Linked DNA regions of Homo sapiens. The protein of the gene in region 4 interacts with the protein of the main gene of each other region in a biochemical or structural test. Each region holds a gene or a part of one and is shown on either strand. Other genes may lie near its edges.

Region 1 (3,975 bases), on a different chromosome or scaffold from region 4:
TGCAGCTGCTGCAGCCGCAGCAGCTCCTCTTCCTTGGCCGCCCGGCGCCGCTCCCGCTGCTCCCGCTGCTCGCGCCGTTTCTGCTTCAGGTCCTTGTGTAGGGACGTCTTCCCCTCGGCCTGCAGCCGGATCGCCATCTGGATGGCTGCCGAAGAGCGGGAGCGGGTCAGTAGGATCCTCGCACACGGCCCGAAAGGGGCCTTAGGAGTTTCCCGAGTCCACTCTCCAACCTCCCGCTGGACAAAGTATTATCACCCCCTTTTCACAGATGAGGCGCCTAAGGACCACCCAGACCCAAGCCACCTAGCGAGCACTCACCAGCTGTCCACTCCTGGCGCTGGCGCGTGTCTGAGGCGCTCATCTCATACGTGCGGTTGGCTGTCTTCACACAGAACATGCAGCGCTTTCCGTCGCGGTCTGGCAGCACCTGGCACAGGGTAGGTGGCCGCAGCCAGGCTGGCCTCACTGGGTCAGGGCCCCACCTGCCCCAAGGGTGCTCCAGCTCAAGCCCCTAGCCCTCCTGGCTATCTTCCCTGGGGACCCCACTCTGCCAGGAGCCTGCATGGCTTGCATCATAAGTTATGGGGGACTTAAGTCCCCACAACTCTGTAGCCTTTGCTCTTTGAAGGCTAGGTGGGTGCGTTTCCATCTTGCTATTATTCCACGGGGCCCAGTACATAATCGCCACTCAGTGTTTATGCAGATCACGCTTGAACACTGCCAGTAACAGGGTCCTCACTATCCATGACAACTCACTTCCACATAGCCCTGCTTGTTAAGAGTTCATTCATTCATTCCGCAGATGTTTTTGGAGTGCCTACTGAGTGCCACTCACTGCTCCAGGGGTTGGGATACTAAGGTGTGCCTAACAGACCAAATCTCTGCCTCCATTAAGTTTACATTCTGTGGAAAATAATAGCTACCACATTCTAGAGTCTGTACTAGTATTTTATATGCATCATTATCTTCACTCCACCTATACAGCTTTGCCAGGCAGGCATTATTAGCTCCACTTTACAGAGAAAGAAACTGAGGCACTAAGAGCTCCAGGATTGTCCACCTCACACTGTTAGTCTGTTAGTGATGAGGCTTGGACTTCTGCGTAGATCCGTGCTCCTTTCCACAGTAACACCTTATGTGACAAAATTAGACAGATCCTAGGATGGCTATGATAATTTTTTAAAAGGAAAAACAACTGTTGGTAAGGAAATGGAGAAACTGAGATCCTCACACACTGTTAGGGATATTATCCAGCCTTAAAAAGGAATGAAATTCTGATATATTTGACAACATAGATGAAGCCTGAAAACATTTCTAAGTAAAAGAAACCAGACACAAAGGGACAAATATTTTATGATTCTATTTATGTAAGATACCTAGAAAAGGCAAATTCATGGAGACAGAAAGCAGAATAGAGGATACTAGGAGCTGGGGTCAGGGAGTATGAGGAGTTATTGCTTGGTAGGTACAGAGTTTCTGTTTGGTGTGATGAAAAAGTTTTGGAAATAGATAGTGGTGATGGTTGTACAATATTGTGAGTATAGATCTTTCACCATGATCAGATGGGATTCATCCCAGGGATGCAAGGATGGTTCAACATGCACAAATCAATATGCATGACACATCATAGTAACAGAACCAAGAGCAAAAACCATATATGATCATTTCAATAGACCCTGAAAAAGCTTTCTAAAAAAATTCAACATCGTGTTATAAAAGCCCTAAAATATTGGGTATAGAGGCAACATACCTTAAAATAATAAACGCTATCTATGACAAACTCACAGCTAACATTGTAATAAATGGAGAAAAATTGAAAGCCTTTCCTCTAAGATCTGGAACAAGACAAGGATGCCCACTTTTACCACTTTTATTCCATGTAGTATTGGGAGTTCTGGCCAGAGCAATTAGGCAAGAGAAGGAAATGAAGGGCATCCAAACTGGAAATGAAGAAGTCAGATTAGCCTTGTTTGCAGATGGCATGGTCTTCTACTTAGAAAAATCTAAAGACTCCATGGGGCGTGGTGGCTTACACTTGTAATCCTAACACTTTGGGAAGCTGAGGTGGTTGGATTGCTTGAGGCCAGGAGTTCGACACCAGCCTGGGCAATACAGTGAGATCCTGTCTCTCTCTTAAAAAAAAAAAAAAGGCCGGGCACAGTGGCTTATACCTGTAATCCCAGCACTTTGGGAGGCCGAGGTGGGCAGATCATCTGAGGTCAGGAGTTTGAGACCAGCCTGGCCAACACGGTGAAATGCTGTCTCTACTAAAAATACAAAAAAAAAAAAAATTAGCCAGGTGTGGTGGCAGGTGCCTGTAATCCCAGCTAACTTGGGAGGCTGAGGCAGGAGAATCACTTGAACTCGGGAGGCGGAGGTTGCAGTGAGCTGAGATCGTGCCATTGCACTCCAGCCTGGGCGATAAAAGCAAGACTCCTCCTCCTCCTCAAAAAAAAAAAAAAAAAAAAAAGGGACTCCAACAAAAAACCGTTAGAGTTGATGAATGAATTCAGTAAAGTTGCAGGATAATTCAACATACAAAACCCAGTAGCATTTGTATACGCTAACAGCAAACAATCTGAAAAAGAAGTTGAGTGCAATCCCATTTCCAACAGCTACAAAGAATGTAAAATACCTAAGAATCGATGTAACCAAAGTGAAAGATCTATACAAGAAAAACTATAAAACTGATGAAATAAATTGAAGAGGATGCAAAAAAATGGAGAGATATCCCATGCTATGTATTGGAAAAATTAATATTGTTAAAATAACAATATTACCCAAAGCAATTTATAGATTTGGTGCAATCTCTGTCAAAATAGCAAAGGCATTCTTCATAGATATAGAAAAAAAATCCTAAAATTTATACGGAACTACAAAAGACCTCAAATAGCCAAAGTAAGCCTGAGTAAAAAGAACGAAGCTGGAGGCATCACATTTCCTGACTTCAAAATACACTACGAACTGGCCACGGTGGTACACACCTATAGCCCCAGCTATTCAGGAGGCTGAAGCAGGAGGATCCCATGAGCCCAAGGAGACTGAGGCTGCAGTGACCTATGATCATACCACTGCACTCCAGCCTGGACACCAGAGAAAAATCCTGTCTCTAAAATAAAACAAAAAAACAAAATGTAGTACAAAGCTATAGTAACCAAATCAGCATAGTACTGGCATAAAAAGAGACACAAAGACCAATGGAACAGAATAGATAACCTAGATATAAATCCATGCATTTACAGAGAACTCATTTTTGACAAAGGCTCCAGGAACACACAATGGGGAAAGAACAGTCCTTTCAATAAATGGTTCTGGGAAAACTAAATAACCACATGCAGATGAATGAAACTAGACCCCTATCTCTCACCATATAAAAAAATCAAATAAAAATGGATTAAACATTTAAATGTAAGACCTGAAACTATGAAACTACTAGAAGAAAACATTGGAGAAATATTCCAGGACATTGGTCTGGGCAAAGAGATTTTTTGTGGAAGACCTCAAAAGCATAGGCAACCAAACCAAAAATAGAAAAATGGGATTATGTCAAGCTAAAAAGCTTCAGGACAGCCATGGAAACAATCAACAAAGTGAAGAGACAACCCACAGAATAGGAGAAAATATTTGCAAAGTATCAATCTGACGAGGGATTAATAACCAGAATATATAAGGAGCTCAAACAACTCTGTAACAAAAAACCAAATAATCCAGTTTAAAAATGGGCAAAAGATCTGAATAGATATTTCTCAAAAGAAGACATACAAATGGTCAACAGAGATATGAAAAAATGCTCAATGTCACTAATCATCAGAGAAAAGCAAATCAAAATTAAATGAGATATCATTTCATCCCAGTTAAAATGGCTTTTTACAAAAAAAATAGAGAACATCTTTTTTTTTTTTTTTTTTTTGAGATAGAGTTTCACTCCTGTCACCCAGGCTGAAGTGCAATGGTGCAATCTTGACTCACTGCAAC
Region 2 (3,975 bases), on a different chromosome or scaffold from region 4:
AGTCACTATTTATTTTATTGCACTTTTCCTCTTTAAAAATATTCAAACACAAACTATGAGAGATGAAGCTGAGATTTGGTGGGAAGGGAAGCAGAAAAAAAGGAAAAGTAAACTAGGTTAGTTTGAGGAAGAGAACCTTCCTGCATGTAGGGGAGCCCCTACCTCCATCTGTCCCTGCTGGTTGCTTTGATAGGGGAACAGGGTTGGACTCAACAAGGGCTAAGTCTGAAGATATAGATGATGGTCACAATAGCTACTGAGAGAGCTCCCAGCATCCCCCTCTCTGCGCGTTGGCTCAGGTGACTGATGATGTTAATGAGGTTAAGGTCATGAGTTCAAACCCGGCAATGGATACCTTGCCAAGGCTAGGGGAACCTCCATTGTGCAACCAAGGAGCACCATGGATATTATAGCCCTCGCAGATGAGGCGGCCATCACCCACATACAAGTTATTATGACAATGGGCCCCAGGAAAGCTCTGGGGAGCAGAGCTCAGCACCATCATCCCCTCTCTTGAGTAAACAAGTCAAAGCACTGTGCTCCCCTGCCTGACATAGGGGTAGTGGTGCCACCTTCATATGCAATTTGCACACTGTTCTATAGTTTCCTTAGGGGGGAGTCAGCCTCTGTGACTCTACTACTGTGGGCAGTGCTGAATCCCCAGCCTGAGGAGCTTCAGAGGGTGCTGTCCTCTCTCCACATGGGTTGATACTGATAGAGTCCTCACTATAATATAGTGAGAGATCCAGGAAGAATAGGTAGAACAAGCTAGTCCTGGGCCCTCCCAACACGGAGCAGCAACATGAACACCCAGGCTGGGGTCTCAGGCCATCATAGCTTCCATGGGAGCCCTTTCCATACTAGGCTAACGCAATCTAGAGGCACACTCCCGTGGGGCCCCTTTTAAAAGGCTAACCTCATGGTGACATGCCAACACTAGCCTCAGAAACACAGGTGAGAGGGACAGAGGCAAGCAGAGAAGAAGGAAGAGAGCATGTCAAATATTACTGAAGTTTCAGAAAGCACAGAGCCTTAATTATTTTCTTAATTAAATGTTGGCTCCTAAAAAGTTTACTCTGAAATTTGACCCACTCAGCCACTCTCTCTTCCTGACAATCTCTCCACCTTTCCTGGGCCTATTCCTTTTCGGTCTCCTGAAAACTCCAAGTTTCTTGAAAATGAATCCACAGAGGCACTTGATGAAGCCAACAGGAATGGTACCTTGACCTGGAAACACAAGTTTCCAGCAAAGCACACGTTTTGGACCCATATGTCCACTCCCTACTGTTGTTACCTTTTCTGTAGAGACTGGGAGCTGCGACCATCACTGGAAGGGAGAGTGAGACACAACGGGATGGCTGCAGGAGCAGAAATCAGGAGTGAGGCCTGATCCAAAGCCTGACTGCAACTCTTTACTTCCGATGTAGGTGAAGCCTTTGCTAAAATGCACTCAGCTCTCAGCTAGTCCTACTTAGGGGAAGAACCAGCTCCAAGAGTAATCCAAAATGGTGGGTAATCTTAGAAAGTATTTAAATATGGCCTTAGAATATAGGATAAAGTCAGGCCCTCTAAAAAGTGTTAGCTTGCTTAGCCTTAGATGTATGTTCTTAATCACTTTTTACTTAAGCTGAACTGGGTTGCATAGCAATTGGATGGGAGGCAGGGCATCCAGGGGAGCCCAACAAGAGGAAAAGGAAGAGCGTGCCCGGGATTGAACACACCCAGAGGGGAATCAGGAGTTGGCCCCTTTGGGCTTATGCACAAGAGCAAGTGAAATGCCACAAGCAAGTAAAGGTGGCTCATTTTAAGAGACAGGTCTCTATAGGGTCTCAACTTCCTGACCGTGCCCCCAACAAAGCTGCAAAGGATGGAAGGGCAATAAAATCTGTGGGCTTAGAGAATGTTGGGGACATCTTTACCCTGGTCCTGGGCTCAAGATCCTGCAGTTTCTTGAGCCATTACTGCTTTTAAGAGAATAGGGCTGAATCTGGAGATCCCAGGTGCTGGGAGAAGGGGAGCCTGGGCTATTGGGTTGTCTGTGCGGATTTGCTGGAAGGAAGGAAGGGTCATGGCAAGGAGGCCTATATTAGGCTACCAGCTGTCCCAGGTACTTTCACACCCTGCACCCAGGTTTCTGGTGGGAGGAAGGTGAATTGGTAGAGACCCCATGCAATTCCTGGTCTTAGTCAGATATCTGCTTGATGTGGTGGCCCATCCTCCTGCTTGAAACCTAGGAGTTACTTCTCAGGAGTGAAATCTGGTAGTGAGAGAAAAGAATAGAGAAAGAGATTCCTTGAAAGATCCTGGGGGATATAGACACAGGCCAGGCAAAGGTGATTACATCTGATCTTTTGTTTGTGCCTGTTAATTCATAGCTCTGGGGGCAGGGCAATGGGTCTGAGTATATGTCTGCATTTCATGTGTATTGTGCGATATTTTTGGGCATGTGTGCTATGTATCTTGTATGCCTATTATAAGTTAATGCATCGTGTGTATATACTGAGTTTGTGTGTATTTTATGTGTAGAAACAATGGTAAAGTAGCCTTTGTGTATCTTATATGCATATGCATTTTGTCCATGTAGTTTTTTATGTATTTTGCATCTGAGTTTCAGGTTGTATATTTGTATGTGGTGTATGTTTGTCTTTTGTGTATGTTCTGTGTAAATTCTATATCTGTGCAGAGTGTGCATTTTATATACAATTATAACCATATATCTTCTGTGTTTGCTTTTATGTTAACCTGGTCTGTCTGTATTTTGCACGTTACATGTTTTATGTTTGTGTGTGACAACAGTGTACCTATTTTGTGGTGAATGTGCATGACTGTATGTGAACATTTTAGAGTCCTGGGCCAAGGACACTGTGATAAGATATCTATCCCTGACCTAGGCCTCAGATATGGGTTGCTTTACCTTCTATTTTCCAAAGATCTGTGTCCCTCCCACCCCATGCCTTGGAAATTCAGCACCACCTCCCATGAAGGAGAGGAAGAGAAGCACAGAGGCTTTGTGCTGGGCATGGGATGCCCTGCAGATACCTGGGGATGTGGGTGACCAGGCACTAATGAGCACCCTGGGCCTAGCACCCTGAGCTGGTGCCCCATGCCCCAAGACAACTGTAGGTGCTAACTAGGCAGCAGTGAGGCCTGGGCTGGAGCCACCCCTGCATAGCCCGACCCCTGCAATTCACTGTTTGGGAAAATTAAGCTACTCCGTCAAAAGGCAAAGACGCCCAGTCTGGTGAGTTAAAAGCCCCCTACCTGAAGCCATTTCAGGGTCAACCTACTGTCTACCTTTAGGCTGTGCAGTGCTCATTTGCACTCTACTTCTTCTGGGGGGTGGGAAATGATTCTTTACCCATCCTTTGGTTCTTTTTAAAAAGCAGCTCTGGTTGCCAGTTTAATGGGGAGAGAGTTTGGGTCTGGAGATCAAAATGATGCCTTTGGATCATCTAGGGACTCCATCACTTAGTCCCGGACTTCAGACATTTCCACATAGAGGAGGCTCCCTTTAGGTCCAGATCAGTGGAATTTGGTCCCAGGGAGTCCTACTCCTTGGTGTCCTTGGTTTCAAAGCAGGGGATCCATTCTGGCTCTTTAGCGAAAGGTTTGTGAAAGTGACGGATGCAGAGCCAAATGATAATAAGATCCAAGTGGCAAGGGAAGAGGTGAAAATGGAGATGATGAACAGGATGAACTGTAGAGAGGAGGCCCGGGGTGGGTCTGGCCCAGGACAGCTGGAACTGTGAGGGCCACAGGGCCCTTGTGCACTCAGTAAGACAAGCTTCAGCCATGGGAACTGAAGCTGCAGCACATGGAGGGCAGAAAGACAATTCTAACGTCTAGGAATCCATGGATACCGGAGTGTCTGAGGCAATGGCAGCAAACCCAGGCCCAGTGGGGTTACCAATGAGACAAATTAACCCATTAGGCCTCTTAGACAGCCAACCCACCAAGCAGTGGATTTGCTCCTGA
Region 3 (3,975 bases), on a different chromosome or scaffold from region 4:
GCTGCCACTGGCGCTCGCGCTCCCAGCGCTGCTGCTCGTGCCGCAGCTGGCTCTGCAGCTTCTCCAGGGCCGCGCGCTCCTCCCGCTGCTTCTCGAAGTTGCGTTGCCGCTCCTGCTCCAGCAGCAGGTTCCCACGCGTCGACTGCAGCCGGAACTGCTTCTCCCGCTCCTGGATGGCAGCCCGCTGCGTCTCCACATAGCTGTCCTGGTGGGCGATTACCGCCTGCGGAGGGCCAGGGCCAGGCGAGTGAGAGCCGCACCTGCGCCCCAGCCAACCAGGAAAGGGCACGCGTGGCCGGCCCCACCCCGCCCCTGTACCTGAAGGTTCAGGAGCAGCTGGGACAGTGTCTGGATCCGCTGGACAAGCTGCGGAGAGGAGAGGGAGATTGATGCTAGTTATCGGGCTGAGGCCACACGCGCGTGCACAAGGCCCTGGGGAGATGGAGACCCGCGGGCGCCTACCTCCGACTCCAGGACGGTGGGCAGACGGGGATCGGATTCCGTGCCTGGCGCCTCCACCTGGGAAGAGGACACCGTCAAACCAGAGAGAGTGGCTCAAGACCCATCCGACTAGACTCAAGCCTTCTTCTTCTTCTTCTTTTTTTTTAACTTTTTTTTTTTTTTTTTTTTTTGAGACGGAATTCTGCTCTTGTTGCCCAAGCTGGAGTGCAGTGGCGCGATCTTGGCTCACTGCACCCTCCAGCTCCCGGGTTCAAGCAATTCTCCTGCCTCAACCTCCCGAGTAATTGGGATTATAGGCTCAAGCCTCCACGCCTGGCTAATTTTGTGTATTTTTAGTAGAAACGGAGTTTCACCATGTTGGCCAGGCTGGTTGCAAACTCCTGACCTCAGGTGATCCGCCCGCCTCGGCCTCCCAAAGTGCTGGGATTACAGGCATGAGCCACCATGCCTGGCTTCTTTTTTTTTTTTTTGAGACAGGGCCTTGCTCTAGAGTGTAGTGGCCTGATCCTCCCACCTCGGCCTCCTGAGTAGCTGGGACTACAGGTGTGCACCACCAGGATCAGCTATTTTTAATTTTTTTTTTTTTTTTTTTTGAGATGGAGTTTTGCTCGTTGCCCAGGCTGGAGTGCAATGGCACGATCTCAGCTCACTGAAACCACCACCTTCCTGGTTCAAGTGATTCTCCTGCCTCAGCCTCCCAAATAGCTGGGATTACTCGAATGTGCCACCACGCCTGGCTAATTTTGTATATTTGGTAGAGGCGGGGTTTCACCATGTTGGTCAGGCTGGTCTCGAATTCCTGACCTCAGGTGATCCACCTGCCTTGGCTTCCCAAAGTGCTGGGATTACAGGCGTGAGCCACCACACCCAGCAGCTATTTTTAACTTTTTTGAAACAAAGTCTTGCTTGGTCGCCCAGGCTAGAGTGCAGTGGTGCAATCTCGGCTCACTGCAACCTCCACCTCCTAGGTTCAAGCGATTCTCCCACCTTAGCCTCCTGAGTAGCTGGGATTACAGGTATCCACCACCACGTCCAGCTAATTTTTATATTTTTAGTAGAGACAGGGTTTCACCATGTTGGCCAGGCTGGTCTCAAACCCTGGACTCAAGTGATCACCCGAGTCGGCCTCCTGAAGTGCTGGGATTACAGGCATGAGCCACCGCACCCAGCCAAAGGATCAGCTATTTTAAAAATATTTTGTCGACATGTGGTCTTGCTATGTTGCCCAGGCTGGTCTCAAACTCATGGCCTCAAGTGATCCTCCCAAGGCCAGGTATGGCGGCCTTGCCTATAATCCCAACACTTTGGGAGGCCCAGGCAGGAGGATTGCTTGAGCCCAGGAGTTGGAAACCAGCCTGGGCAACATAGTGAGACCCTGTATCTACCAAACATTTAAAAAATTAGTCAGGTGTGGGGGCGCGCACCTGTAGTTTCAGCTACTTGGGAGGCTGAGGTGGGAGGATTGCTTGAGCCTAGGAGTTAGAGGCTGTGTGAGCTGTGATCACGCCACTGCCCTCAAGCCTGGGTGACAGAGTGAGACCTTGTCTCCAAAAAAAAAAAAAAAAAGTGATCCTCCCACCTCGGTCTCCCAAAACACTGGGATTATGGGTGTGAGGCACTGCACCCGGCCCCTGCTTATTATTGAAAATACATCCCTTAGTGTGGATAACAGGAAGGACCCAGGACCGGGTCATGACTGGGAACACAGGCCCTGCTGGTCAGCTGACTTGTACAAATCTGGGTGTTTGGAAAACGAGGGGCTGGGGCCTCCTGGGAGGTAGAGTGGGCTTGGCTATGAGGCCTGCGTGCCAGCTCTGGCCACAGGGGCAAGTCCAAGCCTCAGAACTGATCAGAGGCAACTGGCCTTGGCCTCTGACCCCCTGACCTGGGCAGGGCCGAGTAGGCACCTGGCCTTCTGATTCAAAGGCAAAGGAATAGCCGGGGACATCTGGCATCTGGTAGGCACCACCACACCTGCCCCGGCTGAAAGCTGGTGGTCCCTGTAGGGGGTTCCTCGCCTGTTGATGAAGCCATGGTGAGTGCCCTGAGCCTGTCCCCTCCCCAGCCTTCCTCTTGGGGACCTCTTTGCTTTTCCCAGGAGGCTGCAGGAAGAAATCACCTGCCAGTGCATTAATCTGGGCTGAGATACTGTTATTCACCACAAAACAAACAATGCTTGTCGATGCTAATAAGACTAAAACTGGACAACCCCAGCAGAAGCTGCTCACACACATGAATCCTTATGACGACTCAGACTGTACCGAGCAAATGGATATCCACGTACCACCTGCGGCGATTCCTCAGAGCTCCCAGGAATGTCACTGTCACTGAGCTTCAAGTCCGGGCTGTTTGGGGGGCCTCGCCAGTCTCGGGGCCTGGGGTCAGTGCTGCTGACTTTCTTCTTGAAACTGCCATCTGAGAACCCCAAGCCAGGGGCATGAGGATGCTGCCATCCCGTGGGGAGGGGGAAGCTTCCCAGTCCACCCCCAGCCCCTGCCCAGGTAGGAAACCCAGGCTAGGCCCGAATGGTGGCGTCTGCAGCACAGACGCCTGCTGGAGAGGGGCAGGCTGGTCTGGGTGCTGCTGTCACAACACAACCAACGATGTCTGGAGGGTTTCAGAAGGTTCCAGAAAATCGGCTGGGTGCGGTGGCTCACACCTGCAATCTCAGCACTTTGGGAGGCTGAGGCGGGCGGATCACCTGAAGTCAGGAGTTCGAGACCAGCCTGGCCAACATGGTGAAACCCCATTTCTACTAAAAATACAAAAAGTAGCCGGGCATGGTGGCGTGTGCTTATAGTCCCAGCTACTTGGTAGGCTGAGGCGGGAGAATCACTTGAACCCAGGAGGCAGAGGTTGCAGAGAGCTGAGATTGCGCCACTGCACTCCAGCCTGGGTGACAGAGCAAGACTCTGTCTCAACAACAACAAAAAAGAAAGTTCTAGGAAACCCCATACAAGTTAATGTGCATCCTGAGGGGCGGCCCTGGAGGCAGGAGGGGAGACGGCCCCGCTCTTACTCTTGGTGGGGCTGTTTGTGCAGTCGTAGCCCGCGAAGGTCTCAGCCCTCCTGGGCGGGCCTGTGGAGCTGCCTCCGTCTTCCGCCTGGCCGTTGGCGCTGCCCAGCTGCCTGCAGATCAGGCTCTGGATGCCCTCGACTGTGGAAGGAAGGGGACAGGAGGCACGGGTCGCCCTGCGGAAGTGTGCTGGGGGAATACGGAGCGCTGGGGCAGCGAGACCCGGGTGGACGGAGGGACTCACTGGGGTGGTGATCGCCTGCCCCCTTCTGTGTGCCGTGGGATTTCAGCCCCACTGTCCCTGCGCACACCCTTACTTCAGGTATGGCCACCAGGACAGGCCAATCTGCGTCTAAGTGAGAGGACAGGGCTGTGGGGCAGCCATGGGGAGGGCGGGTACAGGCTCCTGCAGCTCCTTCCACCAGGCCGCCCTGGGCCAGGGGCTGGCGAATGCTGGATGTGGCCCTGCCCAGGGCCAGCAGGAAACACTTGGTGTG
Region 4 (5,639 bases):
TGGGAAGCCAAGGCAGGTGGATCACAAGGTCAGGAGTTCAAGACCAGCCTGGCCAACAAAGTAAAACCCCGTCTCTAGTAAAACACACACACACACACACACACACAAAATTAGCCGGGCATGGTGGCACGCACCTGTAGTCCCAGCTACTTGGGAGGCTGAGGCAGGAGAATCGCTTGCACCCTGGTAGGCAGAGATTGCAGTGAGCCGAGATTGTGCCACTACACTCCAGCTTAGACAACAGAGCAAGACTCCGTCTCAAAAAAAAAAAAAAAAAAAAAAAAAAAGGCCAGAAGGCCAGGCACGGTGGCTCACGGCTGTAATCCTAGCACTTTGGGAGGCCAAGGCAGGCAGATTGCCTGAGCTCAGGAGATGGAGACCAGCCTGGGCAACATGGTTAAACCCCGTCTCTACTAAAATACAAAAAAAAAAAAAAATTAGCCAGGCGTGGCAGCATGCACCTGTAGTCCCAGTTTACCTGGGAGGCTAAGGCAGGAGAACCGCATGAACCCGGGAGGCAGAGTTTGCAGTGAGCCGAGATCACGCCACTGCACTCCAGCCTGGGCGACAGAGCGAGACTCTTGTCTCCAAAAAAAAAAATAATAAAAAAAGTAGGCCAGGCGCGGTGGCTCACACCTATAATCCCAACACTTTGGGAGGCGGAGGCAGGCAGATCACCTGAGGTCAGGAGATCGGGACCATCCTGGCTAACACGGTAAAACCCTGTCTCTACTAAAAATACAAAAAAAAAAAACACCTAGCCGGGCGTGGTGGCGGGCACCTGTAGTCTCAGCTACTCAGGAGGCTGAGGAAGGAGAACTGCTTGAACTCGGAGGGCGGAGGTTGCAGTGAGCCGAGATCGCGCCACTGCACTCCAGCCTGGGTGACAGAGCGAGACTGTGTCTCAAAAAAAAAAAAAAAAAAAAAAAAATTAGCTGGGCATGGTGACATGCCTGTAAACCCCAACTAATGGGGAGGCTGAGGCAGGAGAATCACTTGAATCCAGGAGGTGGAGGTTGCAGTGAGCTGGGATCACGCCATTGCACTCCAGCCTGGGCAACAAGAGCAAAACTCCATCTCAAAAAATAAATAAATAAAATAAGTTAGTTGAAGGGCTACATGTCTGGCACTTGAGGTAAGTGCTTCTCTCTCACTGAAATCTCATGGCGCTTCCTTACCATTCCCTTTCTACAGAAGAAAAAAACTGAATTACAAAGGAGACATACTACTGCCAAGGGTCTCAAGCCATCAAGTGTCAGAGCTAGTATTTAACTGTCAGTTTCTCTCCAGAATCCATGCTCTTAAATAAGATACTCTACTGCCTTTTCTTTCCTTCTTTTTTTTGTGTGTATGTTTGAGACGGAGTTTCGCTCTGTTGCCCGGGCTGGAGTGCAGCAATCTTGGCTCACTGCAACCTGCGCCTCTCAAGTTCGAGGGATTCTCCTGCTTCAGCCTTCCGAGTAGCTGGGATTACAGGCACTCACTAATACACTCGGCTGATTTTTGTATTTTTAGTAGAGATGGGGTTTCACCATGTTGGTCAGACTGGTTTCGAACTCCTGACCTCAGGTGACCCACCCACCTCGGCCTCCCAAAGTGCTGGGATAACTGGCATGAGCCACCATACGCAGCCTGCCTTCTGTTTCTGAACTTAAGATCTTCAAAAGATAAACAGAGCTTCATTATGAATAACTGGAAAAGTTAAACAAGAGATTTCATCCAGAAAAGAAATTTTCCACACACACAAAAAAACAGGTATTTCCAACAAAGCTGCCATATCACATAATAAAATTATCTTGTAGAAAAAAGCATTAACAAAGTGTTACAACATTAAATATCCATCTTAAATTTACTTCCTTAACCTCTCAAAGCCTATATCCCAAACAAAGTTACAAAAAAAAATCCCAGTAGTAGAGCATATGATCTCTAGGTCCATGGAAGAGACACCAGAGAATCACAACTCATCTGCAACATACAGACTAGGATACAATGGCTAGAAGAATACAGTAAAATAAAAATGTATACATAACAAAAGTTAGAATGCTCAACCATATACTTGAAGTCAAAACAAGCAACTTTTTTAAATCATGGGACTGAATCCTTGTGCTTTAGAGCAGCTATAAGCTTCAGAAATTAAAAATCTTGGCCAGGGTAGCTCACGCCCGTAATCCCAGCAGGAAGCTGAGGCGGGTGGATTGCCTGAGGTCAGGAATTTGAGACCAGCCTGGCCGACATGGTAAAATTCTTGTCTCTACTAAAATACAAAATACAAAAATTAGCCAAGGGTGGTGGGCAGGTGGTGGATGGCACCTGTAATCGAGCTAGTGGGTAGGTTGAGGCACGAGAATCGCTTGACTCACATCTTTAATCCCAGCACTTTGGGAGGCTGAGGCAGGAGGACAACTTGAGCCCAGGAGTACAAGATCTGTCTGGGCAACATAGCAAGACACCATCTCTAGTACAAAAAAAGAGAAGAAAAAAATAAAGCAAAAAAATTTTAAAAACAAATCCTTAGTGGCTCATGCTTGTAATCCCAACACCTTGGGAGGCCAAGGTGGGTGGGTCACGGGGTCACGAGGTCAAGAGATCAAGGCCATCCTGGCCAACATGGTGAGATCCCGTCTTTACTAAAAATACAAAAATTAGTCGGGCATGGTCACACACACACACCTGTAGTCCCAGCTACTCTAGAGACTGAGGCACGAGAATCGCTTGAACCTGGGAAACAAAGGTTGAAGTGAACAAAGATCACTCACTGCACTCCAGCCTGGGTGACAGTGAGACCCTGTCTCAAGAGAAGAGAAGAGAAGAACCAATGACTTCAAATAAAATAGGCAGAAGTCACTAAGTCAAGGAAATTAATATTATGAAATCCTTTCCGTTTTTTTTTTTTTTTTTTTTTTTTTGAGTCTTGCACCGTCTCCCAGGCTGGAGTGCAATGGCTCGATCTCTGCTCACAGCAACCTCCGCCTCCCAGGTTAAAGTGATTCTCCTATCTCAGCCTCCTGAATAGCCGGGATTATAGGCGCCTGCTGCCACGCCCAGCTAATGTTTTGTATTTTTAGTAGAGACAGGGTTTCACCATGTGGCCAGGCTGGTCTCAAACTCCTGACCTCAAGTGATCCACCTGCCCAGCACTTCCAAAGTGCTGGGATTACAGGCATCAGCCACTGCTCCCAGCCAGGAATTCCTTTTTATATTTGTCCAAATTATCATATTAGTTTACTATTTAGTCAGAATGGAATTAGATCTACTCCTACTCACAGTGATTCTAGTTTTTTTTTTAATATCAGATCATGTCATTCCCTTTCTAAAGAATATCTAAATGACTTCTAATCTCAGAACAAATCCAAAGAATTTCCCATGTCCTAAAGGCCCTATATGATTTGGCCCCTGCCCACCTCTCTAACCTCTTTTTACCTCCAACTTTTCCTTTCACTCCACTTCAAACTTACTTCATTGGCTGTGTATGTTTTCCTCTTTCCCTTCACTTAAATTTAAGATACTATCATAAATATGCTTAAATATGGCCAGACATAGTGGCTCTCACCTGCAATCTCAACACTTTCAGAGGCCAAGGGGGGCAGATCACAAGGCCAGGAGTTCGAGAACAGCCTGACCAACATGGTGAAACCCCGTCTCTACTAAAAATACAAAAATTAGCTGAGCACAGTGGCGCATGCTGGTACTCCCAACTACTCCAGAGGCCGAGGCACAAGAATCACTTGAACTAGGAGGCGGCGGTTGCAGTGAGCCGAGATGGCGCTACTGCACTCTGGCCCGGACGACAGAGTGAGACTCAGTCTCAAAAGAGAAAAAAAAAAAAATATATATATATACACACACACATACACACACGTATATGTACACATATATATACGTATACACGTATATGTACACATATATATACGTATACACGTATATACGTATACACAAGTATATATACATATACACACACACACATATGCTTAAATATACATACTCATCCTCTTCAAAAAATAAAATCAAGCTAAGTTTGGCATAAACTGCATACTGATTGCAATTTAGCAAGAGTATTTGATGTTTTTCTTTATTATTAGCTATAAAAATGTATTTGGATGAAGCATCAATAAACTGAGACCAACACCCAGAACGAGCAGCTTCAGTGCCTGATTTTCAGTCACATGACTATCGTAATTATGAACATACCAAGGCCTTCACTTAATACTACAGCTCCACAGATTAAAGATGAGGGATTTTATAGTAATTACAAACTTCAAACCGTCTTGGAAATTTTAATCCCACAAATGAGCATGTCCCCAAAGAGCCCCATGTATAGCAAGGCATGTAACATTAAGTTCAAAATTTAGTTATATTAATGTGTAGTTACAAGCAAACAGTTCCATTGGGCAGGTAAACAAAGGAATAAACTAAATGGCAGAGTCAGACAAAATACTTAAGATCCTTTTTTTTTTTTTTTGAGACGGAGTCTCGCTCTGTTGCCCTGGCTGGAGCACAGTGGCGCGATCTCAGCTCACGGCAAGCTCCGCCTCTCGGGTTCACGCCATTCCCCTGCCTCAGCCTCCAGAGCAGCTGGGACTACAGGCGCCCGCCACCACACCCAGCTAATTTTTTTTGTATTTTTAGTAGAGACGGGGTTTCACCGTGTTAGCCAGGATGGTCTCCAGACCTCGTGATCCGCCCGCCTCGGCCTCCCAAAGTGCTGGGATTACAGGCATGAACCACCGCGCCCTGCCAGGATCCTTTTAAAACTACAAATATGGGTGGGCGTGGTGGCTCACCCTTGTAATCCCAGCACTTTGGGAGGCCAAGGCAGGCGGATCACCTGAGGTCAGGAGTTCAAGACCAGCCTGGCCAACACGGTGAAACCCCATCTCTACTAAAAATACAAAAGTTAGCCAGGAATGGTGGTGGGTGCCTGTAGTCCCAGCTACTCCAGGGGCCGAGGCAGGAGAATCACTTGAACCCAGGAGGCAGACGGTGCAGTGAGCTGAGATCGCGCCACTGCACTCCAGCCTGGGCAACAGAGTGAGACTCCATTTCAAAAATAAAAATAAATATAAAACTACAACTATATGGCCAATTTTAAAATCCAGTGACTATGTACTATTTATCATAATCACTAGTAACCACAATGCAATTAAACCCAAGGTGCTGTCTACAGAAGGCCAGCAGCTTCAAATTAGCTCTCTTAGAAGCTGATCAGTCTTTCTTCTCAGAGTTAACATATATCTCTCAGCTCTCTAAGACAATTAAAAAGACGCAAACTAGCACCTTCTCCAGTCACTGCATGGACTCCACCCCATGGACAAGAAACACCTGAAGAGCTACCTGTTTTTACTCTCCTAATAACTTACACCCCCATATGACCAGAATAAACTTTTAAAAAGCAGTTAACTGACAAATGGAAAGAAATCAGGACTACGAAAATACTCCACCACCACCACATGCATGTGCACAGGGAATTGTTTACTTGATACACGCAGTACCCCAAATCAACAGTCAAAAGTGCCCACAGTTAACTAAAAATATCTTAGCCTGACCTAAATATCTTGGTTTTGAAGCAGTAAAGTGTAGGCCTTGCTCTAGAAGTTGGTCCCTTAAAAAAAAATCCAAACAAAGCCATGATTAGGCCAACC

Evidence for each region. Proteins that work in one complex are often made in the same cells at the same time.
Region 1: the proteins of RHOA (region 4) and DEF6 form a complex in vitro, tested with the Homo sapiens proteins (one study listed by BioGRID).
Region 2: the proteins of RHOA (region 4) and KCNA2 form a complex in vitro, tested with the Homo sapiens proteins (one study listed by BioGRID).
Region 3: the proteins of RHOA (region 4) and ARHGEF18 form a complex in vitro, tested with the Homo sapiens proteins (one study listed by BioGRID).

The regions. Positions count from the first base shown.
Region 1 is NC_000006.12:35,314,343-35,318,317, reverse strand, and holds part of DEF6 (differentially expressed in FDCP 6 homolog), read right to left. Parts: intron 428-3,975; coding exon 319-427; intron 146-318; coding exon 1-145.
Region 2 is NC_000001.11:110,597,783-110,601,757, forward strand, and holds part of KCNA2 (potassium voltage-gated channel subfamily A member 2), read right to left. Parts: 3' UTR 1-3,975. UniProt on the Homo sapiens protein: Voltage-gated potassium channel that mediates transmembrane potassium transport in excitable membranes, primarily in the brain and the central nervous system, but also in the cardiovascular system.
Region 3 is NC_000019.10:7,463,462-7,467,436, reverse strand, and holds part of ARHGEF18 (rho guanine nucleotide exchange factor 18), read right to left. Parts: exon of another isoform or gene 3,654-3,975; intron 3,620-3,653; coding exon 3,482-3,619; intron 2,878-3,481; coding exon 2,747-2,877; intron 520-2,746; coding exon 463-519; intron 367-462; coding exon 319-366; intron 224-318; coding exon 1-223. UniProt on the Homo sapiens protein: Acts as a guanine nucleotide exchange factor (GEF) for RhoA GTPases. Its activation induces formation of actin stress fibers. Also acts as a GEF for RAC1, inducing production of reactive oxygen species (ROS). Does not act as a GEF for CDC42.
Region 4 is NC_000003.12:49,404,352-49,409,990, forward strand, and holds part of RHOA (transforming protein RhoA isoform 1 precursor), read right to left. Parts: intron 2,456-5,639; exon of another isoform or gene 2,361-2,455; intron 1-2,360. UniProt on the Homo sapiens protein: Small GTPase which cycles between an active GTP-bound and an inactive GDP-bound state.